Homo sapiens: one gene and its partners. The protein of the gene in region 4 interacts with the protein of the main gene of each other region in a pairwise test. Each region holds a gene or a part of one and is shown on either strand. Other genes may lie near its edges.

Region 1 (7,501 bases), on a different chromosome or scaffold from region 4:
AACATTTGTTTTAAGAAATCAACAGCGACCCGAAGATCAGTAGAGCTTCTTCATCTGTTTTAATATCTCAATCTTATTAAAAGGATTAATCCTGTTAAGACAAAATAGCACCTCCACCTTTCTCTCCCTTCTTCCTTTCCACTCTCCTCCAAATAAAAAGGTTAAGTGACGACATCCAGCCCAAAGAACAATGAACAATAGATACATACACACACACAGCTCTCTCTTCCAGTTTCCAACAGGAACAACACAAGAAAGTCAAATACTGATTAAAAAGAAATGACACACACCATCATTCTTGTCAGTGCATGGAAAGGGAACTTACTCTAATCCATTCAGCAAAATCTGGAGTCAAACTTGGAATGAAAGGAGCATTTTTTTTCCCTGCAAGGTAAGTAAAAGAACTCAGGAATTTTTTAAAAATAAAATAAGATACCAGATGCAAATAAATTGATTTCTATTCCTCAGAAATAGGGCTTTTAATAAACGCCACACAGAGTATGCATAAGCAAGCAAGTCAATCCGAAAGACAGGAAGAGAAAAATAATGTGTGGCACATCATTTTCTCTGAAAGTCGACAAGCAAAAGGTGAACACAAAAAGGCTACCTCGGGAGGGCTAGTTTTTTGTTTTGAGATGGTTTTTCTGTTTGTTTCCATCCAGTTTAATGCTAAAGAATTTTCTGAAATCTTTTCACAGGGGACACTTGGCACACTCACAAAAACTAAACTGTTTCCTTTAAGATTTCTTTTCTCACCTCCAAAGAGTAGCCACTGGCTTTTATGGGGTTGGTCACTGCACTTGTGAATTTTAGATGGATAAAGTGGCAAAATAATGATTTTTTTTAAATATAAAAGTAAAACTAAGATGTATGGCAAGTAAAGCTTTTTAAAAAGCCAAGTCAAATTTGAGGCCTGCTGATTTTGACACAAAGCTGTTAGTAAATTGGCAAAGAAATTAATCTGCTTTTAGGGTAAACTTGAGCCCAGGTAAAACAAAAAGGCCAAGTCAAATTTGTGACCTGTTGATTTTGACACAAAGCTGTTAGTAAATTGGCAAATAAATTAATCTGCTTTTAAGGTAACCTTGGGCCCACAAACATTCATCCACTCACCTTTAGACTATGCCTATCTAGAGGTTAGCCTGAGTAATTAACCAGAGTTATCAATTTTGTTTTCACTAAGCATTTTGATAGGTTTGGCACCTCAAAGACAGCTTTGTGATGCAATTTATAAATTTAAAACACATCCGGTAAATAAAGAAAATAATAAAATGTCAGAACCACCTGATTTTCTTTTTTAAGAACTATTTAAGTATTCAAAATTAGCTTTTAGTAGTACAGGCAATGTCACCCTTTCCTACTTGGTAATTATCCCAACAAACTTTCGCTTTAATTTAGGCAGACTGCAAGACAAAAACCATGTATTGTATTTTATAAGATAAATTACAAATTAAATCAGTTATTTAACTTAGAAAATAATCTTCTGGCAGCTCTCTTAACTTACAGGGCACCTTGTATTGTGAAGAATGTTCATAATCAGATAATCCCCGTAACCAGCTACAGTACTGGGTGAATAATATCCCTTTATCACAAAGATAAAGGAAGTTACTGCCATCAACAAATGAACAACAAAACAGAACTTGAATTCAGAATTTTAGATCCAGCTCCATTCACAAGGCTATGCATTAACTGCAGTCACCATCCTTTCCCACAAGACCATCAAGCTCTGAAGCATTAGGAGAAACATTTTCTTTATGTACACTAAAATAAGCCCAAATACACAGATAACAGCACAAAGCCGGTCCGGCGTTTCTTGGCCATCAAAGCATGCACAGACTTTCTCAGTACAGCCTTAAGTGTAATTCCTAGAAGGCACTGGCAAATCTCTGCCAGGCCAATCTGCAGTCGAAAACCGAGTGCATGTGTCCAACAAGATGACAGGAGGGTCAATGTTTCTAACCGTCTACTTCAACTCTGCATGGCAATAGCGGTTCTGCCCAACATGGTAAACACAATAATCGTATAGGATCGAACACAAGTCTCTGTAAATGAGGATCCCCTTAAACGCAAACAAGCAACTCTGGGGAAATATAATTTCTGGAACAAAACATGGTGCTCGCATAATTCCACAAAGACACATAGAAGTCCATTTTTAAAATGATGTTCGGTCCCAGCACTGTGCTGACACTTTTCCCACCTAAACTTCTCAGCACAAGCCTGGCCTAAACAGCCGGGTTCCAATCCGTGCACAGTGGAACCGCGGCACGCACCCAAGACCGGAATGGTGGGGCTATACCTGTCCCTACTCAGTCCTGTTCGTGCCAGCCTGCGAGGTAGTTTAGACCCGTCTGCTTTATGGTAATGTGCTTTTAAAACCCCGCCACGACCGAGGTCATAGCTTTAGAGATTTAATAACAATCAAATGACCAGGGCTGCTGGGCACTTAGTGAGCCATTCTGGTTATGGCTCTTTAATAGCACCTGGAGTTCTGCTCCAGGGAGAGAGGAAAACTCCTGCTCCCCCGGAAAGAAAGTCCTCTGCGGAGAGCGCAGAGGGAAGCCAGGAAGCCGATCGCGGGCAGGGGACGCGCCGCCGCGGCCGCCCCATCTCTCAAGCAGCCCCAGCGCGACCCTCGCCCTGCAGCCGTGCTGGCCCAGGCCGCACCTTTACCTGTCAGCTCCACCACCCACCCGCCCTGGAGGCTGCCCCTCCGAGTCCAGGGAAAGGCTTACCAGCCGGCTGCGGGAGAAAGAACCCCAGAGGCATCCTATCCCAAAGAAAGAAAGCAAAAAGGCTGCTCCTCAAGGCAGGGGGCCATCGGGCACGCCGAGATCCGAGAGGCGACATGCCACCCCTGCCCTGCACCTACCAGATAATCCATGTACAGAAACGCCTCAGTTATTCGGAGATCAGACATCCGGCAGCCTAAAGCATCCGGAACGGCTCCGAACCCGGAAAAAAAAAGCAGCGTCTCTGGCTGCGAGCGAGCAGCTCCTGAAAAAGCCAGCAACAGCGAAAATAGCCGAAAGCAGCCGACTAGCCGGAGATTACACAAGGGGCGCGGCGATTGGCCAGGCGGGCGGGCAGAAGGAAAGAAGCGTGCTCATTGGCTGCGGCGCCTATAAAAGGCAGGCCCCAGCTGGTGGCAGGAGAGAAACGCGGGAGTGGTGGGGGATGTGGGTTCCTGTGTGCTGAGCGGAGGAGCCGGGGTGGGGGCGGTGCAAGCGGAAGAAAGAGCCAAGAGAGCGGAAAATCGGCTGGTGCTGTCGCCGCCCGAGTTTTGTGTTTCCACAGCTTTCCAGTTGGGTACAACGGAGCCGAACTCCGTGTTCCCGGGCTGGAGAGCCTTGGTGTCCCCGCCAACCCCCAGTAGGAAGCGAGCGCTGTAACATGGGAGGCGTGGTCGCCACTGATCTTGTCTCCCCCCAGAGCCTTCCTAAAGGCTCTGCCGCCACGAGACTGCACCACCGGGAAAGAAGTGTGTGAAAGTGTACTCCGTAAACAGGCAATCCTGTACGCGACTTAGGGGCAGAAAGACCCTCCGCACTTTTATCATTTGAAAGTAAGGTGGACGATTCCAGCCTGGTGTCCCTGAGGGTACACACAGGCCCCCCGCGCAGCCAGAGGTGACTCAGGAACCCCCCTTCCAACCCCTGCGTAGAACGCCGAACAGTCTTCGGAGAATTCGCTTTCCTCCACGTGAAAAGGAAAAGAAAAACATTTGAGGAGTCGCAGTAGTCACTTGTACTCCCCAAACACACGGGAAGAAGTTGATCAGTTTGCATGCTTGGAGTCAAATTACGCTCAGCACAAATCCAACGCCCCTGAATTAAATGAGCAGTAGAAGCTCTCTGCAAAAAACACAACAGTATTTGTGACCCGGTATTATTTCAGGAGGTAAAAACATCTATAAGCAGATGCATTTGGGACGTATGCATTTCCTGGTAATGTCAATATCGCATTAAGCTAGTGGGTTTGGGCAGGGAAAGCCTGAATCGGACAAGAAGCTGGCTTTTTTTTTTTTTAGGCTATAAATAACCAGACCATGCCAGACACATGTTCTTAGGCTATGTTCTTAGGCTCAGGTGATTGGAGTGCCCCCCCCCCCATCCCCACCCTCAGGGCTTAGGGAGAATGGAAGATAAGGTGGATGCTGTCACCTGTATTAATAGTTAGGGCTTGCATACATACAGTAAAGTTTCAAGAGTGAAACTTCATCGACTGAACTCTTTATGAAGTGACTGCCTGACTCTACACGCGATGTTTTAGGAGTTGAATTTTTACTTTCCCCCTGACACCTTTCTTTTTTGTATCCTCAAGAAACAAATTTCCGTACCGTAAGTTTACCTGGGACTACCAAAACAGTTCTGTTAGATGACCGTGGAATTCACCCCAAATGTGCACATAACCAATAAGGGCGAGGCAGCCCCCTAGAGGGAGCTGTAGGTTGATGAGCCAAGTGATTTTAGGTATGCAGTCTAATTTCCAAACCTGTTTCCTCAGCTGCAAAACGAGAATTCCTACAGCCAGAAAGTTGTGAGGGTTTGGGCGGGGGGCGGGGTTGGGGAAGTTGTTTTTGTTTTTTTGAGACAGGGATTCTCTCTGTCGCCCAGGCTGGAGTGCAGTGGCGCGATCTCGGCTCGCTGCAACCTCCGCCTCGCCGGCTCAAGCATCCTCCCACCTCAGCCTGCAGAGTCGCTGGGACCACAGGTGTGCACGACTACGCTCGTCTAATTTTTTGTATTTTAAGGGTAAAGACAAGGTCTCACTATGTTGCCCAGGCCTGTTTCTAACTCCTGGACTCAAGCAATCCGCCCACCTCGGCCTCCCAAAGTGCTATTAGATCCAATTTTGATTTTCCTTGGCATTCTGTTAATTCAAACACATGTAGGTTTAGAAGAGATTTTCACCTAGATTTTGGAGGAGATGGACGTCCATAAACGTACACTCTTTAGCACAATTTGTTTGAAACTAATTTGGAAAACAAAATCTCTCAATGAGCAGAAATAGTCATGGAACATTTTTTGTTTGTTTTGCTTTTCTTCGTGAATAAGCATATTTAAAATAAGATAAAGGGCTTGAGTTAGCAAAGAGACACCTTATGGACCATTGTCTTAGTGATAAATGATGTGTGGGCTACTGCCCAGTCAGGCTTTCGAGAGGCCTATCAGTCTCTATGCAGAGGAGGATAGCCACTCAGAAGCAGGTGGCTTCTGCCTTTCCTTTAAAAGTTAAGCTTAGGGAAAGATAGTCCTGAACATGTCATTAGGGTCAGTATGGTTCTTGCTGCCTCTAAGAATTAGTATATGGGGCCAAAGCAGGGAGATGAAAGAATATGTTCAAGGAAAAGTTCCAAAGACTGCACCATAATATTCACTTTATTCCACACAATTTGCACATTCATTGTGACTGGCATCAATGAAAACCTTGTAGTCAGTGTAATGTATTAAAAAATCACATATTGCATTTTAGGAAAGAGTCCTTATAAAACAACAACAACAACCTGTAGATTTTGAACTCCATATGGAGCACATTTTTTCAATTAGATGTTTTCTGAGATGTCAGTGAGTCCGCCCCTACAGAGGAAAGAGGCTAACTTGACTGAATTGGTATGAACAGATAATACACTACCCACTACATGAAGCTGCAGTCATAGCTGATAGGGTTGGTAGCACCTATTGAGGTAATCACCTCAATACATGCTTTTTAAAAGAGTGTAGAGAAGTTAGAATGCATTTAATCAACCTACCATACTGTATGCCAAGTAACAGACTGCAATCCAGAACAAGACATGATCTCATTAACCTAGTTCTGCCCTTGCTGTCAGTGAAAAGAATGACCCTCTTCCAGATGCGGAAGAAACATGTAAACTCATGAGGCAATTGCATTAGTGCATAGGTTTTGAGGAAAGAGGCTGATACGGTTTGGCTGTGACCCCACCCAGATCTCATCTTGAATTCCCACGTGTTGTGGGAGGGACCCGGTGGGAGGAAGTTGAGTCAAGGGGGCGAGTCTTTCCCATGCTGTCCTCATGATAGTGGTAAGTCTCATGAGATCTGATGGTTTTATTAGGAGGAATTTCCCTGCACAAGCTCTCATTCTCTCTTGCCTGCCGCCATGTAAGACATGTCTTTGCTCCTGCTTCACCTTCTGCCATGATCATGAGGCATCCCCAGCCATGTGGAACTGTAAGTCCATTAAACCTCTTTCTTTTCTAAATTGCCCAGGTTCAGGTATGTCTTTATCAACAGCGTGAAAACAGACTAATACAGAGGCCATCACTGTTGCTTGTCAAAAGCAAAGAGAAATTATTTTGACAGTCCATACTCTAAAATTCCATAAAGGCTGCTGGCTAGCCAAATTTGGAGGAAAATTTTTTGTTAAACTGTCACTTGCAAGGAATGAAAACAGAAATGCATTTTTGCAACTTGGTCTCCCAACTTTCCAGAAAAATCAACATATTAGTGGTTATTTCCAGCTATTCTTTTGTTGTTTCCAAGGAGAATACTGCCTTCACTAGTTTTGTATCATGCATACACTATCTCACTGAAACTTTTCATAAATCTTTAATGGATACATAAAACTATTGTAAAAATGTACTACTGTGTTAACAAATCCTTTATTAGTTACTACTATTATAAATATTACAGTGAATGTTTGCTTATAAAACTATCCACATCTTATTATCCTAAGAATAATTTCTAGTAATAGAATTACTGGTACAAAGAGTATGAGCACTTCTTTTCTTTTTTTTTTTTTTTTTTTGAGATGGAGTCTCGCTCTGTTGCCAGGCTGGAGTGCAGTGGCACAATCTTGGCTCACTGCAACTTCCGCCTCCCGGGTTCAAGTGATTCTCCTCCCTCAGCCTCCTGAGTAGCTGGGACTACAGGCACACGTGACCACACCCAGCTAATTTTGTATCTTTTTTTAGTAGAGACGGGGTTTCACCATGTTGGCCAGGATGGTCTTGATCTCCTGACCTCGTGATCCGCCTGCCTCAGCCTCCCAAAGTGCTGGGATTACAGGCGTGAGCTATCACGCCCAGCTGAGCACTTTTAATACTCAGTTTTGACCTAGCTTATGTAGTCTTCTTCCTTCTACCCCCCAGCTCCAAAGTAGGGAATGATTATCTTGTCTCATCTTTGCCTTAATATTATTCCTTAATAGCTGAAAGATGGTATCTTTCATTATAATGACTCTTAAATCATGGACACTTCTTTTTCAGAAAAAGTGGTCAGCTCTGCAGAGGTCATCAGGCACTTTTTCTCACTTACCACATCCAATAACTCCTGTGACTTTAAAATTCTCTTCTGAGTCCTTTTTCCCTTTCTCTCCAGTGGATACCTTGACACCCACCTCTGATTTACCCCAGTCCTCTTCTCTGCTTCCTAAACCTAAATGAAGTATCACTGTGTCCCAGAAGATGAACTTCATCAGAACAGGGTGTCCCCACATGAAGCCGCTAACAGAGCTTGATTCATAAATGGAATCAAGCCAATGA
Region 2 (6,946 bases), on a different chromosome or scaffold from region 4:
CCAGAGCCAGCCCCTCCCTTCCCCCACCACCTCAAATCCAGGCTCCAAGCTGGCAAACACCCACGGGAGGGCATTTCCCACAATCCCTTTCTCTTTGCCCTTTCAAGGTTCTGATGGGGGAGGGGAGGAAGAGGGGCCACCAGATGCACTCTCTCCCTAAAGAATGGTGGCAAACATGTAGGCTAAACTCAAATGAGGGAAGAAAAGCATTGAACTCAGCCTGCTGGAGAGACCGAAGTGACATGGCAAACTCCCATTCCCAGGAGCTGCCCAGCCAACCACCCACCATTGGGTGCTAAAACACTTAGATTTTAAATCTCCCTTTCCTCTCCAATCTTTCTGTAGTTTCATCTCAACGATGTGCCTTGGCTGATTCCTTCTCTGCCCCCTTCCAGGGCCCCACTGCTATCCTGGACAGCTTGGCCTCAGCCTGGACAGTAGCACTGACCAGTCAGGCAAGAGAAGAATCTAGGCCGAGGAGGGGAGGGAGAGTGGAGGTTTTTTTCTTCCGTCCTAAATAACCTGTGGCTGGAAAGCTTAGGGACTCCATTGCCCAATGTCTCTTTTCCTCCCCACCAATGCCAGGAGGCTCGGCCTATCTTTCCATCTTGTGTGCAGAAACCAAGAGTTTTACCAGGAGGCTCAGGAGTATCCTTTGAGGAAACAGATCTTTCTGCATGACCCACCCCCTAGAGCTTTAAACCCCCTATCCTGCCAATCACAGAATGACTCCAGAGGACTTCATCTGAGCCCACCGTGATCCAAGTGTCCCAGCCTCTCTGGTCCCAAGGAAGGTCAAGGGAAGGAAGGTCCCCGGGTCCTCTGCCAGTCACTTCCTTGTAGCTCAAGCCAACCAAGCTGGAGCTGTAAATGAGCTTATGCACAGTGATGCAGGTGGGAGGGAGCTAGAATGTGGTTCAATGGGGCACACGGAGGAGGTAGGGGATACCAGCGGGCAGATCATTAATCCCCTCACACAAACATATGCACCCATAGACTGGATGTGGGTCAGATGTTGGGGAAGATGGATTTATTTTTTCCTCAGGGTAAGGGATAGCAGAGGGGTTCTGCATTAGAGCCACAGAGGGGCTGGAACCATAACCCTGCTACCCCTGCCACTCCCACTCCCCACCCACCCTCCATCGGTGGAGTCATTGCCATTTGATATCCGCTGAGACAACTTGGCTGCTCAGGCTCTGAGTGGGGGGTGGGGGGATGGCTCAGAAAACAGCAGCTCCTTTCAGGACCCAGGTTGGCAAGGGCTTTGGGAGGCTGGACCAGCCCAGATCACCCCCCAACACCCTCTCCCTCCCTTCCTCCCTTGCCACCACCACCAAAGGACTGGGGGAAGGCAGCGGGGAAAGGAGTTGGCACTGCCTGGGCCGTGCCTATTGCCTCCACAATCCAGCCCTGGACCCTCTCCCTGGCATGATGCCTTCCATCCCCCTCCTCCCTCGTTTCTTCCTCCCTGAAGAACCAGCTATGAGTCAGGATGCCTGGTTCCTTCCAAACTTGGTCCCCTATACCCAGTCTACCCCCAGAGAAATTTACAAGCCCTACCACTTGGCACAGGATGGTACCCACCATCATGCCAGGAATATGTTCAAAAATCCTTGGAGATTAGGGAGAGAGTTTCAGGATGAAACTAAATTGAACTCACTGGTGGCTGCCCACCCCTCCTGGGGCTAATTTCATGACAACCACTCCAGGCCCTCCTCAGCACCCTTAAACAAGGCCATCTCTCACATGGGGGCCCTAAATCTCCTGTCATTATCTCCCTCCCACCCAGGCAGCCTAAAGCAGTCCCAGTGGGGAGAAAAAAAATTCAAACACCACAGCAAGAGCAGACTGGCCAGACATCTTTAGTCAGAATTTGTATTGGTAAGCAACAGAAGCAGGCTTTAAGCACTGGCCTCTTTGGGGTCCAAATCTGCACCAGCTTCTTCCCCATCTGCCTCACCCTGCCTGGGGCACTCACTGGAATTAAACTTCAAGACACCAGAACCCACCCTCACTTTTTCCCAGTGTTGTCCTTCTACCCATTCCTGGGTTCAGCTCTCCTCCCCCAAATCAGGAAGTTCCATCCTTCATCTGTTCCCTAACACAGGTGCCCTGGGTTAGTTCTGATGAGAGGAGGAATGGAATGGGAAGGGGCGTCTCCATCTGGAGGGTGAGTTTATAGAACCCAATCTGCCCTTCTCACTCTAGCAGAAGTGGCCCTGCTCCTTTCCTTCTGGAAATCCCAGTGCGAAACAGCTGGGGTGAGGGTGAGGGGCCATGAGGAGGGATGTCTTAAAATGGGAGCCACTCAGAATAGAAGGAAGAGATTGGGTGGGCAGGGGTCTGGAGCACACCAGGCTTTGGTGGCTCCCCGGTTTAAGCTGCCAGTATCTGTTTTTCTCCCCATGTGGGAACTAGCGATCATGGGTGTCACTATGTGATTGTCACTGTATGGGGAGTGGGGGAGGGGCTGGGGATGGGAGTAACCTGTCCATATGGGGAGGAGGGCGCACTGTCTGTTGTGCCTGTGTATGGGGTGCCTGGTTATGTGTGGTTGTCACTGTATTAACTAGAGGAGCAGGGATGCAACTGCTGGTCTGCCCAGTGGGAGGGGGCATCGGGAAAGCCCCTTCCTTAGATGAAAGGGCTGAGGTGACCAGCCTGGCTAGTTTCCTCGTGGGGAGCCCTTCCCAGGAGGCTCCATTTGGGACTGCCCAAGGCGGGAGGCAGGGGAACAAGACGGTGGTACCGCTGAGGCCAGGCAGGGTAGGGACTGAGGATCTGGGACCCCGATGTCTCTGGAGAGTTAGGGGGACAGGACCCGGCCGGGGCGGCAGAACTCCTTCATCAGGGCCAGGGTCTTACCTTGGGTCCGAGGTGGAGTGGCCCCTTGGATGGGCCGCGGGGCAGCGGGACAGATGGACGGACGGGGCGGGCAGGAGTTAGGAGCAGAGCTGTGCGACGGGCCGGGCCAGGACTCTTAAACCCGGAGCTGGGATCAGATAAGGGCTTGTCCGGGGGCCGGGGCCGGGGTCGGGCCGGCCGGGGGCAGAGCTGGGCCGGGCCGGGCCGCCCCCTCCCTCCGCAGCGCCGGAGCCAAACTTTGTGTGAATGGAGGGGCCCGGAGGGGGGCCGGGCAGGCGGGGGCGGGGGGCTCCGAACAGACCAATGGGAGAGTGGAGCGCCAGGCTCGAGCCGCCGAGATTGGAGGGTCTTGGGCAGGGGGCGGGGCGTGCGGGGCAAGGAAGCGGAGACCCAGACAGCTGCAGGCGCAGAGAGAAATATCCAAAGACAGAGACCCAGACAGACCCGGGGAGAAAGAGAGATGAAGAGACGATATGCGAAACGATAGGAGCTGAGCTGGCAGGGTGACAGGGGAAGGGAGAAGGAAGAAAAGGGAGGCGGTCCTGTCAGCGATGGGTTACGAGAGCTGGAGCCGGGGGGCGGGACTGGGACCGAGTTAACGAAGTGGAAATGAATTCAGGACCGGCCCAGTGGCCCTGCAGGCAGCGCCGAAGGCGGCGCCTGGAAGTGAGATTGGGGCGGAGTAGGCCTGGGCTCCCTGAGCCACAGGACTGTATCTTTGGGCACAATTCCCGTGTTGTTCACCGTCTCCTAAGTCCCCGGTGCGGTGCTGGGTGAGAGACGCGCAGCACACGGTGCCCACCTGCAGCGGCTTTCTCTGTAAGGAAAGATAAGGCCGGAACCCTCAGCGAAGTGCGGGAGGTACTGAAGGCTGTAAAAGGGAGAGGTCATTCTACTCAGAGGGCTCCTAGCAGATGTGGGAGGAAAGAGGTAACATCTGATTAGGGTCCCAAAGGAAGCAGAAGATTCAGGTGCTGAGAGATGGTCCCCAGGACTCTGTTGCATTTAAGGCAGAGGGAACAACGTAGCAGAGTCCTGGGGAGACGTGAAAATACAAGTTCACTTGGGAAACAGCATCAAACTGTCCCATTTACTAGATTAGAGTGCAGGGTGATGGTTCTCAACCCTTTCATCACCAAAGATTTCTTTAATTTTCTGAATCTATGTGTTGAGAGGTTTTAATTCACCCCCACCCCCAGCATTTATTTAAAAAGAATATAATTATTTCCTCATTTCTGATCATCATAAACATTTAACTGCTAATCAATAACCAGTGTTACCATATTGAATTGCTATAAATTCAGGTAAAAAAAGGAAAGAAACTAGGAATGTAGCTTAGTTTAACCACTAAAAGCCATAAGATAAGTAAATGTCCATTCAAATAGCCTCATTGGAGAAGCTGGAAGGACGGGACTAAAGGTTAGGCACCATAGGCAGTGTTTGTGTTAAGGGGAACATCCGGAAGAAACACAGAGTTGTGCTGATTTGTGGTCAGGCCAGAGTTTCTGTAGGCTACGGAGAGCAATTGAAGGTTCTTGGGAAGGATGGAGTAGGAGAAAGCTATGGCATTTTAGGAAAATTAATCGGGAGGTGACAAAATAGTTTGAACCAAGTGGATATAGTAGGCAAGTAGACGATAGAAAATAATTGCAATAATATAAGCATGAAGAGATGACAGCCCAAATCAGCGTGGCAATGGTGAAAAGTGGAACACAGAAAATGAATTGGAGTACAGAAAAATCAAAAGAAAATGAAAAAAGTTTGAAGCCAACTTGACATGTTGAGCAAAAGAGGGAAGCTTCAGAGATCATACTAGAGTCTCAAGTCAGGTGATCAGAACTGCGAGGTCATTCACGGGCATAGGGGAGCCTGGGGGGGATCACACCTGGTGAGGAGACTGAGGTGGGGGAAGAGGAAGTGATGAGTTCAGAGCTGGAAGCTGTGGAGAGGGGTCAGAACCAGAGAGAGAAAGGAGGTCATTGCTGCCAGGGCAGTGTGAGTTGAAGCTATGAGAACAGGGTAGATCCCAACAAAGACTGCACAGAGAAATGAGAGCCTGGCACAGAGAGTGAGGAACACCTATGTTTAGGGGATGGGAAGAAGAAGGACCCCCAAAGAGTGAAAGAGAATCCACCAGACAGGCAGGAAGGAGACAAAGAAAGTGAGATGTCATGGAGCTAAGGAAGGAGAGACTGTTAAGGAGGAGGTTCTAACAGTGCCAACAAGTACAGAGAGAAGAGGCATTGGGTTTGGCAGTGACAAAGTCTCTAGTGACATTTGAGAGCAATTTCAGAAGAGTGAGCAAGGTGGGAACCAGATTACAAGTTACCACTAGAAAGTGAGAAACTGTCAGCAAGTATAGGTTACACTTTTGAGAACTCTACTCATAGAGAGGAGAGAAATAGAAACCAGACAATGTACTAGAAACAGGCCAGGCCAGGTGGCTCATGCCTGTAATCCCAGCACTTTGGGAGGCCAAGGTGGGTGGATCACCTGAGGTCAGGAGTTTGAGACCAGCCTGGCCAACATGGCAAAAACCCATCTCTACTAAAAATACAAAAATTAGCCGGGCCTGGTGGCACGCGCCTGTAATCCCAGCTACTTGGGAGACTGAGGCATGTGAATCGCTTGAACCTGGGAGGCAGAGGTTGCAGTGAGCCGAGATCACGCCACTGCACTCCAGCCTGGGGGACAGAGCTAGACTCTGTCTCCAAAAACAAAACAAAACAAAACACAAAATAAAAAGAAAAAGAAACAGTCTTCCAGTTTTTCTTCTTCACACTCCGAATGCCCTCTCTTCCTAAGTCAATATGGATGAGGGGCTGTGGTGAGGTGGTCTGAGGGCCAGCCTGCAAGACTGGTATAAGACCTTTAAGTTTCAAAAAATAGGACATCCAAAAGATCCTTAAGGGGGCCACAGTCTTGACATTCACAGACAGAGAGGACTTAGGCAGGGGTGTCCAATTTTTTGGTTTCCCTGGGCCACATTGGAAGAAGAAGAATTGTCTTGGGCCACACATAAAATACACTAACACTAACAGTAGCTGATGAGCTTTAAAAAAAAAAAATCACAAAAAAAACCCTCATGATGTTTTAAGAAAGTTTACAAATTTGTGTTGGGCCTCATTCAAAGCTGTCCTGGGCTGCATGCAGCCCACAGGCGGTGGGTTGGACAAGCTTAGCTTGGAGGCTCTGGTGGAACTCCAAAATAAACATGAAGAACACCACAGAAGAGAAAGCAAAGGGACTGTAATGATTTATGGATCATTAACAGACATTTATTGTGCACTTATTATTTTTCCAAAAATGTTATCCATCCATTTAGCTTCAACTACCACCCATGTGTCAATATGTCCAGCCCACCCGGATATCCATTTCAAACTCAACATATTTAAAGTCGAACATGTCACCTTGCTCACAAGAGTGCTCCTCTCCATTTATTCTCTACCATGGTAGATACACTATCATCACCCAACCAGAAACATGGCAGCCATCCTAGATTCTTCAATCTTCCTCACCTCATCTCCCTTATTGAATCAATGCATCTGTATTCTAAATAGCCTCAATATTGTCCCCTTCCTCTCTATTCCACTATCATTGCTGTAGTCTAGGACACCATTACCTCTCACCAGGTAATAATAGTTTGGATCTTTGATCCTGCTCAAATTTCATGCTGGATTTTAATGCCAATGCTGGACATGGGCCTGGTGGGAGGTGTTTTGATCATGGGGGCAGGTCCCTCAGCGGCTTGGTGCTATCTTCATGATAGTGAGTTCTCGTGAGATCTGGGTGTTTAAAAGTATATGGCAACATCCCCCATCATCAACTCTCTCTTGCTCCTGCTTTTGCCATGTGATGTGCCTGCTCCTGCTTTGCCTTCCACCACAAGTAAAAGCTTCCTGAGGTCTCCTGAGAAGCTGAGCAGATGTCAGCACCATGCTTCCTGTAAATCCTGCAGAACTGTGTGCCAATTAAACCTTTTTTCTTTATAAATTACCCACTCTCTGGGTTTTTTTTTTTTTAATTTTTAATCTTTTTTTTTTTTTTGAGACAGGGTTTCACTCTGTCCCCTAGGCTGGAG
Region 3 (7,039 bases), on a different chromosome or scaffold from region 4:
CCTGTCCCTAGCCCCTGTTACTCTAGCCTTTCCAGGCTGCTCCTTACCAAGTCCTTTCCCTACCTAGATTGGAATGATGGGTGGACCTGTTCTGACTCAGCCAGTGAAACTATTTTCCCCTCTTTCCCTGGGTGGAAGTGGTCTTGTTCCCACTTTCTGGACTCTCAGCCCCTTGGGTCCAGCCACCCTGGATTAATACCTCCTGGCTGGGCCCTCCTTCAGCCTCGGTCTCCCTGACCCCCAGATATTTCCCTGGGCTTGGTCTACACCACAGCTTCCCGTCTTTCCAGCATCCCAAGACCAGATTCTGTCATTGTAGAAACAATGCATTCATTAAGTTTTAAAATTAAATGTTATCCAACAATAGGAAAGTTGTGAAACATTAAAGAATCCAAAAGAATCATGTTTCACACCTGAATTACCTGAAAGATCATCTCTCTCAAAACCCTCATTTTCCAGCAGAGGAAACTGAAACCCAGGGACTTATCAGAAATCACCTCATGGACAAATGAGAACAGTTGGAGCCACATAGACCAGCCAATGGGCCGCAGTCTATGTGACTCAACCCCAACCCGAAAGATGGTAACAGAGGATCTCATCCCAACAGAAGCAAACTGACAAAACACCTATTTCAGCTGACTTACTGATGGATTGGAATTCAGATGGGTTAATGAACAAGAAAATCTTTTGTGAACCAGAAGTGTTTTAAGCACCTAGAATGTGTAAGTCCCCCTAGCTTTTGCCCCAAATATTATGTCCTTCAATCAACGTGGCCCTGCTCAACTAGCACGCTTCAGTGGTGCCTCTGCTCACTTCTCCCCCTCTTGGCAATAGGACACCCGCATTTTATAGAGAATAACCAAGCCTCAAGAATTTGAACAGGTTTCCCAAGTCCAAACAACTACTTAGCTGTCACCAGAACCTGAGTGTCCCGGTGACAACCTCTTTCCACCACTCTGCAAGGCTTCCAAGCAACTCCAGTAGTCTCTGTGGATGAATCAGAGCACCCAGGCTGACAGCACTGTGCACCTCTGCTTCTGGGATGACGGTGGAACACAGGGACGTCTGGGCCTCTTAGGTCAGGGTCCTCTTGCTCAAGGGACCTAACCACTGCTCTTCACGCTAGCACCAGACCAACACGTGCTGCAAGGACACTGGATGGTCGCTGCACTGAATGCAGCTGCCCAGAGCTTTATCTCATCAGTGGGCACTGAGGACTGATGTCAGCAGCCCTAAGACAAAGCTTCCTTTGGGAGGACAGTAGAAGAGGGGGTGCAGCAACAAGTGGGCCATTGCATGTGTTGTTTATCAACATTCGGATGACGGAGATTTTGGCCAATTTCAGAAAGACACTCATATTTTGTAGAAACACAGTACAGTGCTCTCATGGAGAGAAAAACATCGCACAAATTAGGGTGGAGAAGAATCTGATGCAGTGCCCTTCAGAGACACAGCTGAGTGGGATGATGCAACCCTGAGCTTGGAGCCACCTGATCTAAATTCGAGCCCACACTTAGCCACTTAGGAGCTGTGTAGTCTTGGATAAGTCACTCAAACCCTCTGGTCTCCATTTTCTCACAACAAATCTATTCTCCAAGGCTCAGTTTTCCCATTCTCAAAATGGGATACTATTAACTTGCCTTGCCCACTTCACAAGGGAATACCGTAATGTCATCTGTGGCAGCTCCTTTCTCCCAAACTGTAAAACACCCTCTGTGTTTTAGGGATCACGTGGTAGCATATTCTTTATGGCCTGGCCAGCACAGAGCTAAGGATAGGAAAGTTCTTGTGGAATGGAATTGCAAGCATGAGTTAGTGATAGTCAAAGTACTAGAATTGGATACAATGCAATTATTGCTTACTGCTAGTCTGAGCACTATGCAGTATCTACACAATGATTCTGAAGGCATTTTGGGATCTCAGTGGCTGAACGTCCTTCATTATAAGTTTGCAGTTTGTGAGAGGAAGGAGGAAGAGACAGGATAAAAACTTACTGCTGTTGAAGGTGTGCTGGGTATAAGACCCCATACTCACAACCTCCCCATGAAGGGAGCACTATTATTCCTATATTATACCTGTGGAAACTGAGACCAAGATAGGTTTTTGCTCACCAGCTTTTAAGTGGTAGAGATCAGGTTAGATCACAGATCTCCCTAACTCCACAGACTGAGCTCTACTCCTTTTAACAATGCTTTTTGTAAAAAAAAAAAAAAAAAAAAAAAAAAAAAATTCCACAAGAAAGTGAGATTACACAATATTCTTCTTTTTGTGTCTGGCTTATTTCACTTAGCATAATGTTCTCCAGGTCCAAATAGGACAAACATGGCAAATGGCAGGGTCTCCTCCTATTCTAAAGCTAATATTCAGTTGTATATATACATATAAACCACAGTCCCTTTATCCATTCATCCACTGATGGACACCTAGGCTGTTTCCATAATTCTTTAGTAAATCACAGAACCCTCTTGTTTTCTCTTCTAACTTAGCAAACTTCATTTGATTGAGTCACAACAAAATATTTATCACAAGTAAACAAGAAAGATGGAAAATTTCTGATCAATGATGACCATCCATGTTGCTGATGATGGAACAAAAAGCCAGATTAAACAAGTAAGACAGATAAAATCGTTGATTAGATCCATTGCTTCAACTAGAAAGGGAACATAGGTGAAACATCTACTCTGTACTCTTGTATGTGGGGTTTTAAAAACAAACCTTAATACCAAAATGAAAGACAAGATCAGCAAATATTAGGTGAGAAGTTTAAAAAATTATTGGTATTTTGCATATAGGAAAATAATTTAAAATAAAGTCCCTTTACTTCATTGTACATTTAATTGAATTTGGAGGTTTTTTATAGTAAGAAATGAAAGTTCGATTGAGAAGAGATGCCAGCTTTCACTCACCATTTCTGACAGTCTCCCAGGAACCTTCTTCGTACACTGCCTTTGGTAAGCTCCTTTCTCACTGGCTTTATTGGCTTGTGTCTTTCATTTGTAGGAACAGTTAACTGACAAAGCTGCAGAGGCAGGCTGAGAGGTGGCTCCAAGAGAACCCTGGCCAAGCCATTTATGGTCAGGGGAGTAGCCAAGCCCTCAGTCCATCCCTCGGGAAAGATGGGCTGCTGCTGCATGGCCGACGTGTATGGCCTGGTTCACCCACCCTCTTTGCCTTGATTTTCTGTCCTTACTTTTCAGGCTGCTTTCTTGGCTATACCTCCATCTCAGCAAAGAAGCCACAGCTGGCCTGAGAGCTTGGGGGCTTCTGCAGCCTGCAGCCCTTTGGAAACAATGGGTTACATGAGGCTGAGGCTGGCCACTCCATCCCCAGCTGACGGGAGTCCACATTAACCATGTTACTGATAATGATGGAGTCATTGTGTTACATGGACAACAGCATGGACATTCGGGATGTCTGGAGGAGGGGTGGGGGCCCATTCTGTTGCAGGAGTCACACTGCTGGGGGCTCCAGCTGCTGCAAGGTGCTGCACTCAGTGGCCAATGAGCTGCCTGGTGTGAGTTCAGCCTCACCCCCTCTCTGTTTTTGTATTTTGGGTGGGAAGCTCTCTAGACCTGGAGGAAGCCATGGACTTGGGCTGCTTTATAACTTACAATTTCCCTGTTAGGGATTTGCCTCTTTAAAATGGTGAATGAGTTGCTAATAAAACAACAGAATTAAACCAATAATTTGGCCATTGAAATGAAAACCACTGTGAGAGGAGCAGATAGGAGTGTAAGGAGAGAGCGACTCAAGTGACAGAGGAGGCCGTTGTTTAGATGACTCTGGGAGATGGCACTGAAGCTGTGCGTGAAAGATGAGAAGAGGGCAGACATGTGAAGGGTTGAGGGAGGAGAGTCCCAGGCAGAAGCCACAGCAAATGCTAAGCCCTGTAAGCTTGGTGCACTCCCAGAGCAGGCAGGAGGCCGGTTGGCTGGAACAACATAAACCAGGGAGTCACCCGGGAAGGGGCTAAGGACGGAGTGAGTTTGAGCCCTTTTGATGTGACATGGGAGGGCATGGTAAGATTTTCATCCTTAGATGAAACCTTTTCCAAGGGTTTTTCAGTGGGAGAGATGCATGATGTAATTGCTGGTGACGAGGATTGCTAGGGCTTCTCTGTGGAGCCAAGATTACAGGGGAAGAGAGTGGAAGCAGGTGGCTGGCTAGTGGAGTCCAGGTGAGCGATGAAGGTGGCTGCTGTAGGAAGACAGCAGTGAATGATTGTGCTCTCTACTGTGGAGGTGGAGCCACTGGGATTAAATGATGAAAAAAATATGGGGCGGGGAAGGGCGAGGTGAGGGAAAGAGAAGAATAAAGCCAACTCCTGGGTTTGAGGCTTGACTAACAAAAATGGAGATGCTATTAGCTTAGGCAGGTAATACTGGAGAAACAGATTGCCCTTACACCTGAGTAGCCTAGGGGCTGTCCAAGTGTGGGTGCCAAGTAGGCGACTGGATAAAGGGGATCTGGGGCTGAAGACATCCGTTTGGGAGTGGCCGGCCTGTGGATGGTTTTAAAGCCCCCGGTGTGCATGAGCAGGTAGACAGGGCAGAGGGCCAGGACAGCTGCCAGGGGTTCACAGACATTTAGCAGCCTGGAAGAGGGGGTGTCACTAGCAAGGAGAGTTGAGTGAGGCAGGAAAATCAGATAAGTTCGGGGGTCACAGGAAAGAAATTTGATTCAAGAAGGGGAGTAGATGTTGGTTAATTGTATCAACTGCTGCTGAGAGGTAGCCTCCGAAGAGGTCAGAAGAGCCTTCTGATTCCCAGTATCGGGGTTGCTGGTGGCCTTGACAAGAGCAGTTTAGTGGCACAGTGGAGACCAGATTGCCTTTAATCAGGTGGTTTTTCCATCCTGGTTGCATACCTGAATTACCTAGGGAGTGGTAGGGGGCTGGTTATAAAAACTCTTGATGCCTAGAACCTGCCCCCAGAGACTCTGACTTGATTGATCAGAGTGAGGCAGGGGCATCCCCAGGGGACGCTAACGAGCAGTCAGGGGTGACAGCTGCTGTTCTAATCAGTTCTTAGACTGTGGTAATCAGCCACCTGCAACATGGCCGACACTGATGCTATCCTAAACAAGACCAATGAGGCCTCTGCCTTGTGGGCTTCCAGTTTCCAAGACTCCACAGTGACAGCCTAAACTGAACCTACTGGTGACAACATGGTCTAGAGAGACCTCTGTTTAGAGCCACAGCTGCCCTACTGGAAGCTGCATGGTCTTAGGCAAGTGAAATAACTTCTTCCAGTCTGAGTCTTTTAATCTACAAAGCAGGGATGATACAATTTATGCAATTAGACTACTTGAATCAGCACAGCTCGTACAAATGATGCTTTTAATTTTCCTTGACTGGCGTAGAATCAACCTGGACCATAGAATTCCAGTTTATGGCCCCAGCACTCTCTGGCAAGGCTGTTTGTGGATGGGGAGGGCCACTGAGGTCCTTTTTGGCACTTTTGTTTGCTGTGCATCCACTGATCCATAACTCTGCCTTCTGATGGACACATTATCTCTTTAGAAGAATTGTTGACATCTTCAGGCAATTGGTACCCCTGCCTAAGTGTCCATCAGTCATGACTGCCCAGTCACAAGCATCAAAACCAGACTCTGCTTAATTTTTTGAAAAGGAAAATTTGGCCGGGCACAGTGGCTCACGCCTGTAATCCCAACACTTTGAGAGGCCTAGGCGGGTGGATCACCTGAGGTCAGGAGTTCGAGAACAGCCTGGCCAACATGGCGAAACCCCATCTCTACTAAAAATACAAAAATTATCTGGGCATGGTGGCACATGCCTGTAATCCCAGCTACTCGGGAGGCTGAGGCAGGAGAATCGCTTGAACCTGGGAGGCGGAGGTTGCAGTGAGCCAAGATCATGCCATTGCACTCCAGCCTGGGCGACAGAGCAAGACTCCATCTCAAAATACAATACAATACAATACAATACAATACAATACAATACAGTACAGTACAGTACAGTACAGTACAGTACAATACAATACAATACAATACAATACAATACAATACAATACAATACAATACAATACAGAAAAGGAGAACTTACTGACTGAGTATAGTGGAGCTCTCAGAAAGGACAGAGGGCTAGAGAACCAGGCTCTGGAAGGACAGAGTGAGGTTGCTCCCAAACCTTCAGCAGCAGCAACTCCCAGACGGTCTTTCAGAGGTGTCCTTCCAGGGAAACTGAGCTCCAAAATATCTCAGCCCTTTTGCCTCTCTGATCAGGACTCCAGTCCCAGGAAGAGGATTTGGTTGGTCTGGCTTGGTTCATATGGCCAAGGATGATGTACCACCTGGCTAACAGTCCCCCCAGTGAGGGTCCCTCCAATGGAAGAAGAGGTGGTTCTGCAAAATGAATTTGGCATTGTTACCTAAAGGAGAAGGAATGGATGAAGTGAGTAAGCTCTCCTTCTTTGGAAGTCGGGCCTGAGAATCATCTCCTTAGAAACCATAGATGGAATGCCCTTAGTGGGTGAAAGATTGGGGCCACCAACTCTGAGAATCTCGGATCATTTATATTTTGTCACCATTTAAATTTGTACAAGCCCAATCACATGGATGGTCTTCCCTGTAACAACCGGTCAGCTTAAAAAACTGGACCATTCTAAATGACAGGTGGCTGTCTTAGTCCATTTGGGACGCTAAAACAGAGCACCACAGACTGAGTGGCTTATAAGCAACAGAAAGTTATTTATCACAGTTCTGGGGGCTGGGAAGTCCAAGATCAAGGTGCCAGGAGATTCAGTGTCTGGTGAGGGCCTGCTTCCTGGTTCCTAGGCAGCTGTCCTCTCTCTGTGTCCTCACGTGGAGGCTGAGGGATCTCTCTGGAGCCTCATAACCTAATTACGTCCCAAAGCCCCCGCCTCTCAATACTATTACATGAGGGGCTGGGATTTCAATACATGAATTTTGTGGGTATACAAACATTGTTGCAGTGGCCTTGTTCTAATTTTTAGAAATCTTTATCTAAAATGTTAATAATAAGGTAGGGATAAAGTGAAATTTTAGAACAAACAGAAGA
Region 4 (7,024 bases):
AGGTTCACACACCCCAGGGAGCACTCCAAAAAACTTGGGAGGGCAGCGAAAAAGGGTTAAAACTTCTATTTATGTTTATCGTTTCCTTAATCTTTCAAAAATCTCCACTGTAAGCCCATGAGGCCAGCCCTGGTGAGCTATTGGCAAAAGCTATTTGGAACAGGCCATTGGTAAGCTATCTGGAACAAAGTGGGGGCTGCCTCATGTTTACTCTTCCTACCAGAATAACTTCCAGCTAGTCAAAGCTCTAGGCATTAAAAATGCAGCTGCAGGCTGGGCGTTTCGGCTCATGCCTGTAATCTCAGCACTTTGGGAGGCTGAGGCAGGTGGATCACCAGAGGTCGGGAGTTTGAGACCAGCCTGACCAACATGGAGAAACCCCGTCTCTACTAAAAATACAAAATTAGCCGGGCGTGGTGGCACATGCCTGTAATCCCAGCTACTCGGGAGGCTGAGGCAAGAGAATCGCTTGAACTCCGGAGGCGGAGGTTGCAGTTAGCCGAGATCGCGCCATTGTACTCCAGCCTGGGCAACAAGAGCGAAACTCCATCTCAAAAAAAAAAAAAAAAAAATGCAGCTGCAAAAGTTTGGAAGAAAATATGGGTATGAAGATTATATATATACTATATATAATTATAATGTATAATATAATGTATAATAGTTATAACATATATTATGTACATATAATATGTATTATATATATAAAATCTTGTAGCAGGAATTAGACAATAGCAAAACCATGGAACCTTAAAGGAAAAGATAGTCACACTTGCAGATTATAAAAATTTTTAAATCCTGTATAGCAAAAAAAACATAAAATTCAAAAGACAAATGATGAACTAGGAGAAATTTTACAAGTGCTATGGTAGACAAAATACTAAATTCATTATAAAGTTATCAATAAATATGCAGAAACAGAATAGCAAAATAGGCAAAAGATATAAAAAGGCTATCTCTTAATAAAGAAACACAAACGACTTTTAAAAATTCCCAATGTTTGGCCGGGTGCCATGGCTCACACCTGTAATCCCAGCACTTTGGGAGGCCGAGGTGGGCAGATCACCTGAGGTCAGGAGTTCAAGACCAGCCTGGCCAACATGGTGAAACCCCATCTCTACTAAAAATACAAAAAATTAGCTGGGTGCAGTGGCGCGTGCCTGTAATCCCAGCACTTTGGGAGGCCGAAGCGGGTGGATCACGAGGTCAGGAGTTCAAGACCAGCCTGACCAACATGGTGAAACCCCTCTTTACTGAAAATACAAAAAAAAAATTAGCCAGGCATGGTGGTGGGTGCCTGTAATCCCAGCTACTCAGGGGGCTGAGGCAGGAGAATTGCTTGAACCTGGGAGGCAGAGGTTGCAGTGAGCCGAGATCATGTCACTGCACTCCAGCCTGGGTGACAGAGCGAGGGTCCGTCTCAAAAAAAAAAAAAACAAAATTAGCTGGGTGTGGTGGCACATGCCTGTAATCCCAGCTACTTGGGAGGCTGAGGCAGGAGAATCGCTTGAACCTGGGAAGCAGAGGTTGCGGTGAGCCGAGGTCGCACCATTGCACTCCAGCCTGGGCAACAAGAGCGAAACACCGTCTCAAAAAAAAAAAATCTCAATGTTTTATAATGTAATATATTCAGTAGTTCATATGCAATTTATAAATAAACAGAAATATATCAGAGGTACATACTGAAAATTTTCTTACTAACAGGAGTGTTCCATTGAAAAGCAGAGAAGCCACTGCTCTTCACCACCCCCTGGGTTCTTTCTGCAGAAATTTTGGGATGAGACCTACTGCTTCCTGGAGAGGGGAAGTGGGAAGGGGACAGCCGCTCACCTCGATCTTGCCCTCCTTGGCGGCCAGCTTCAGAGGCGTGAGATCCTGCAGGTTGCGGATGTCCTCAAGCTGCACGGTAGGGCAGAGGCGGGCCCCAGCTTGGAGGAGCCCATCATACATGCTGGTCACCAGTGCAATGTTCTCAGCTGAGTTGTCCGAGATCATCACTAGGGCATGCAGGACTGTGTTGCCCTGGGAGTCAGTGGCCTGCAGGCTGGCGGGCTGGTGTGGGTTCTCCAGGAGGTAGCTTACCACATCCCACTGCTTGGTGCAAGCGGCCAAAGAGAGGGGTAGCTCACCTGCAGGCCAAGAGAGCAGCTTGGGCCCCAGGCCTCCTGCTTTCCATCTGCCTACTCCTCATGCTCCTTGGACAAAAGGCCAGCCCTCCTTGAAACAGGTCAGGCTTCTTTACCACTGAAGGGAGCAGAACAGGGGCCAGCCAACCTGCTGCCTTTTGCTGTCTTCTTTGCCAGAGCCCAGGCATGCTGCCTCTTTATTCAGGCTCTGCCTGGCCAAGTCACATGCCAGTGCTAGCAGCCCCTATTTCTTTCCCTGGGTCTGGGTCTGGGTGCATGCCCGTCTTCTGGCCAGACGAGGATGAAACATCTCTTATGACAAATTAATGCTGGATGTGGTGGCACACACTTGTAGCCCCAGCTCGAGAAGCTAAGGCAGGAGGATTGTTAGAACCCAGGAGTTTGAGGCTGGCCTGGACAAAAGACAAACTGCTTTTGCAGGCAGCCTAGTGGTTAGAAGCAGGGCATCGGGGTCAGAAAAACCTAGGTTTAACTGCCAGCTCTGTCATACACTAACCATGTGACCTTGAACCAGGCCTTACTCTCTCTTTGCCTCGATTTATCCAAGAAAGGCTCACTCACCGAAATAAAAGCAAGTCCCTTGGCCCTTCTGGAAGAAGCGGCCGCAGGCCCGGGCATGCACATTGGCCCCATTCTCCACCAGGAGCTTCACACACTGCAGACTCCTCTTCTCAATGGCGATGTGCAGAGCGCTGTGGCCTCGGTAATAGTCATCTGTGCACTGGGCATTTACCAGGGGCTGAGGATTGCCAGAGTCCCTGTCGATCTGCAGCAGTGGCAGAATGCAGGCATTGACTCCGTCCTTAAGGTTCAGCACAGCCTTCATCAGGCACGTCTTACCTGTGGAGCCCTCTGTGGGAAGAAGGGAGGGGAAGGGGCACAGTGGTGCTGAGACCTGGAGTGGCTGGGCTGCCCGATAGCTCTTATAAGCCCAGCTCAAAGTACCCCTTGGGAGGATTAAAAGAGATGCTACACATAACTGGTGGGAGCACAACCATGTTATAGGCTATTAAGGCTCCAAGTAACAGATAAGAAATACCAACAGACATGACTACAATTTCTGCCCTAGAAACGAAATTTCTTTTTTTTTCTTTTTCTTTTCTTTTCTTTTCTTTTTTTTTTTTTTTTGAGACAGAGTCTTGCTCTGTCACCCAGGCTGGAGTGCAGTGGCGCAATCTTGGCTCACTGCAAGCTCTGCCTCCCAGGTTCACGCCGTTTTCCTGCCTCAGCCTCCCCAGCAGCTGGGACCACAGGCGCACACCGCCACACCCGGCTAATTTTTTTTGTTGTTTTGTTTTGTTTTTTGTTTTCAGCAGAGACGGGTTTTACCGTGTTAGCCAGGATGGTCTCGATCTCCTGATCTCATGATCTGCCCACCTCGGCCTCCCAAAGTGCTGGGATTACAGGCGTGAGCCACTGCGCCCGGCTTAGAAACTAAATTTCTAAGACATAAGTCATCATTCGTGAAATGCTGTCTACAGCAGAACATTCAGAGCAGTATTTGTACATGACTCCACCACTTAATGTCTCTATCTCCTCTGGCAAGTCACGTGGCCTCTCTTAATCTCAGTTTTCGTTACTGTAAAATGGGAATGTTCCAGGATTATTGTAAGGTTCAAAGGGAATAATATAAGGCCAGGCGCAGTGGCTCACGCCTGTAATCCCAACACTTTGGGAGGCCAAGGTGGGCAGATCACGAGGTCGAGTTCCAGACCAGCCTGACCAACATGGTGAAATCCCATCTTTACTAAAAATACAAAAATTAGCCAGGCGCAGTGCTGGGCGCCTGTAATCCCAGCTACTCGGGAGGCTGAGGCAGGAGAATTGCTTGGACCCGGGAGGCAGAGGTTGCAGTGAGCTGAGATCACGCCACTGCACTCCAGCCTGGGTGACAGAGCAAGACTCCGTCTCGGAAAAAAAAAAAAAAAAAATGGCCAGGCGCGGTGGCTCACGCCTGTAATCCCAGCATTTTTGGTAGGCCAAGGCGGGCGGATCACGAAGTCAGGAGATTGAGACCATCCTGGCTAAAACGGTGAAACCCTGTCTCTACTAAAAAAATACAAAAAATTAGCCAGGTGTGGTGGCTGGTGCCTGTAATCCCAGCTGCTCGGGAGGCTGAGGCTGAGGCAGGAGAATGGCATGAGCCCGGGAGGTGGAGTTTTGCAGTGAACTGAGATCGCACCACTGTACTCCAGGCTGGGCAACAGAGCAAGACTCCGTCTCCAAAAAAAAAAAGGGGAATAATATAAACAAAGTGGATAGCACACAGAGGGCCTGGCACACAGCTAGTTGAAGCCAAAAACTACGAACAACCTAAAATGGCCATCGATAAGTAAGGAATTGGTTAACTAAATGATGATAAGGACACAAGGGAAAACTCACTCTGCAGTTGTCAAAGTGACTAAGTTAGACATGTACTGAAATGGAAAGTGCTACAAGATGTATTAAGTGGAGGAAAAGCACGTTACAAATTAGTATATGTGTCAAGACCCCATTTATGTAAATATATACTGATGTATTAAGAAAGTCTGGATAGGCCCTGCGCGGTGGCTCACACCTGTAATCCCAGCACTCTGGGGGGCCAAGGTGGAAGGATCACTGGAGCCCAGGAGTTTGAGGCCAGCCTGGGCAACATGGCAAAACCCCATCTCTCCAAAAATAAAAAAGAAGAAAGAAAGAAAGTCTGAACAGATGCATTCTCAAACAATTAATTGGAGCCCAGGATGAGAGACTGTGTTTACCCTTGGCTCTATATGTTTCCTTACTGTTTGAATCTTCTAGAGTACTCATGTTATTTTTCTGATCAGCCCAAACAATACAGATATTTAGATTTTGGGCAAAGAGTGCTTTGAGATGGGTTAAGTATATGGTATGTGCATTATATATTATATCTCAACAACACTGTTATTAAAAAAGATAAAAAAAGATTGCTTTGGGTTTCCATTCAGCCACTGCAATGGGCTAGGGGTGACAGAGGTAGCCAGGAGGCCTGAGGGGTGGGTGGAAGTGGGAGGCACAGCCAAGACTGACAGGAGGCCATCCTTGATTAACTCTGTCCACAGGGCCCCCCAGCCATCCTTCCAGTGGGAGGGCTGCTGAGAACACTCACTCCTCAGCTCCTGACCAGGGATCAAGCCCACACAGCCCACCTAACTATCAGCTCACAGGATGCCTAGCCTTGGATCCACAGGGCAGGGTCTACCTGTGTATTCCGAGTCGGTGAGGTACTTGCTGGTCTTGCTCAGGTACTCTGGAAGTCCAGCCAGATCCTCGGGGACACCCCGGGAGACCGCATTGAAGAGCCGATCTCGGTCAAATCGGTTTGGATCCGGCTGACTGTGGAGGATGTGGTTTGTGACTCATGCTGGAGAAGAACCACAGGCCCCCCCAAAAGCCCTCCATCCCAGGGAGCCCTTTCAGGGAGTCCTGTACACACTGCACACCCCTCAGGCCCAGGAGCCCAGTGAGAGCCCTTCTGAGGGCCTCTATCCTCCTAGAGCCATCCTAGGGGACCCCGGGAGGAGGAAAAGGGGCCTGTCCAGGCACTAAGCTGCTTCATCCCCATGACGCCAGTCATCACAGACACTTTTCAGCATCAGGTGCTTGTCATGTGCCAGGTGCCTTGATGTACCATCTCTCAACAGCCTCGATATCCCACTGGGTCCCCTTCAGCACACACCACTTGTGGTGGCTCTTGAGCTTGGGGCTGGATCTGGATAGGGCTGTGGGAGGTCCCCGCAGACTCACAGTGGCTGCATGCATCACTGCCTTCAAAGAAAGTATGCAGAAAATCTCCCTTCTCCTCTTAGAAACCATCTATTAACTACAGAATATTCTGTGCCTTTCATCTTCACTTCAGCCCTGCTGGTCAGAAACTACTCATTTCTCCATTAGATAAACAAGGAGGTCATGTAACTTGCCAAAGTCACACAGCGCCAAACTGGGAATCTCAGCAGGGCTGTTTAACTTTAGACCCTGACTCTGAATCCCCAGAGAGATTCTAGGCTTGGCAGCAAGAAATTTCCCAGAAACAGAGCATTACCTGGGCCCAACGCTGGGCCCAATGTTGAAACATATCAGACACCACCAAGAAGGCACACCTAATGAGAAATCTCTCCCACAGACCCCGGAAGGGATCTGGTAGCTTGTCAGAATCTAGAATCTAGCAGCGTCTGGTGACTGGAAGTGGGAAGGGCATGAGTCATTCCCTCCTGGGCTGTGTTACTAATCACAGGGGCCAACTTGCCTCTGGGGCTTCTGGTACCACCACCAGCAGATATGCGAAGACAAAGAACAGGGGGTGCTATTTGATGATTTGTAGACCCTCAGGTCCCAGCTTAATGTCTCTTGTGGAATGGGTCAACCAAGTAAAGGTTGGTGACAAGGTGATTGTTGGGATCCGTCACTTTTTTTTTTTTTTTGGAGACAGAGTCACACTGACACCCAGGCTGGAGTATGGTGGCATAATCTCTGCTCACTGCAACCTCTGCCTCCTTGAATCAGGTGGGGATTTCAAGGGTAGACTTTTTAAGCCAACAGCTATGACTGTAATTACAGCCAGCCCTCCTTTGTCAGCACCAGGAAGCCACACATGACCATGAGGGCTCTATCTGCTGCTGACAGGAGCCCTGTGGACAGTCTGGCTGGCAGAAGTGGCCATTTGGACAAAGAACTTTCTGTCACCAGGGTGGCATCATGGTCCTGGGGTAGGGAAGCCCATTGAGGGCACAGATTGAGGTACTGAAAGCATCAAGGGCCCGTCCTGCCTGTGTCGGGCAGGCTCCACAGCTCCCAGAATCTCCTCATGCATCCTCCCCTACCCTGGTGCTGAATCTGACCACTGTCCTCCAGCACAAACAGGAAGCAGCTCTAGCCTGCGA

The links.
Region 1: the proteins of TRPV2 (region 4) and ARL15 interact in a protein complementation assay, tested with the Homo sapiens proteins (one study listed by IntAct).
Region 2: the proteins of TRPV2 (region 4) and KCNJ10 interact in a protein complementation assay, tested with the Homo sapiens proteins (one study listed by IntAct).
Region 3: the proteins of TRPV2 (region 4) and OPALIN interact in a protein complementation assay, tested with the Homo sapiens proteins (one study listed by IntAct).

Annotation. Positions count from the first base shown.
Region 1 is NC_000005.10:54,307,563-54,315,063, forward strand, and holds the start of ARL15 (ADP-ribosylation factor-like protein 15), read right to left. Parts: upstream 3,012-7,501; 5' UTR 2,918-3,011; coding exon 2,870-2,917; exon of another isoform or gene 2,848-2,869; coding exon of another isoform or gene 2,733-2,847; intron 385-2,732; coding exon of another isoform or gene 326-384; intron 1-325.
Region 2 is NC_000001.11:160,067,157-160,074,102, forward strand, and holds the start of KCNJ10 (ATP-sensitive inward rectifier potassium channel 10), read right to left. Parts: upstream 3,005-6,946; 5' UTR 2,866-3,004; intron 1-2,865. UniProt on the Homo sapiens protein: May be responsible for potassium buffering action of glial cells in the brain. Inward rectifier potassium channels are characterized by a greater tendency to allow potassium to flow into the cell rather than out of it.
Region 3 is NC_000010.11:96,355,988-96,363,026, forward strand, and holds the start of OPALIN (opalin), read right to left. Parts: upstream 3,016-7,039; 5' UTR 2,910-3,015; coding exon 2,907-2,909; intron 1,173-2,906; exon of another isoform or gene 923-1,172; intron 1-922. UniProt on the Homo sapiens protein: Central nervous system-specific myelin protein that increase myelin genes expression during oligodendrocyte differentiation. Promotes oligodendrocyte terminal differentiation.
Region 4 is NC_000017.11:16,418,571-16,425,594, reverse strand, and holds part of TRPV2 (transient receptor potential cation channel subfamily V member 2), read right to left. Parts: intron 5,481-7,024; coding exon 5,347-5,480; intron 2,997-5,346; coding exon 2,706-2,996; intron 2,127-2,705; coding exon 1,828-2,126; intron 1-1,827. UniProt on the Homo sapiens protein: Calcium-permeable, non-selective cation channel with an outward rectification. Seems to be regulated, at least in part, by IGF1, PDGF and neuropeptide head activator. May transduce physical stimuli in mast cells.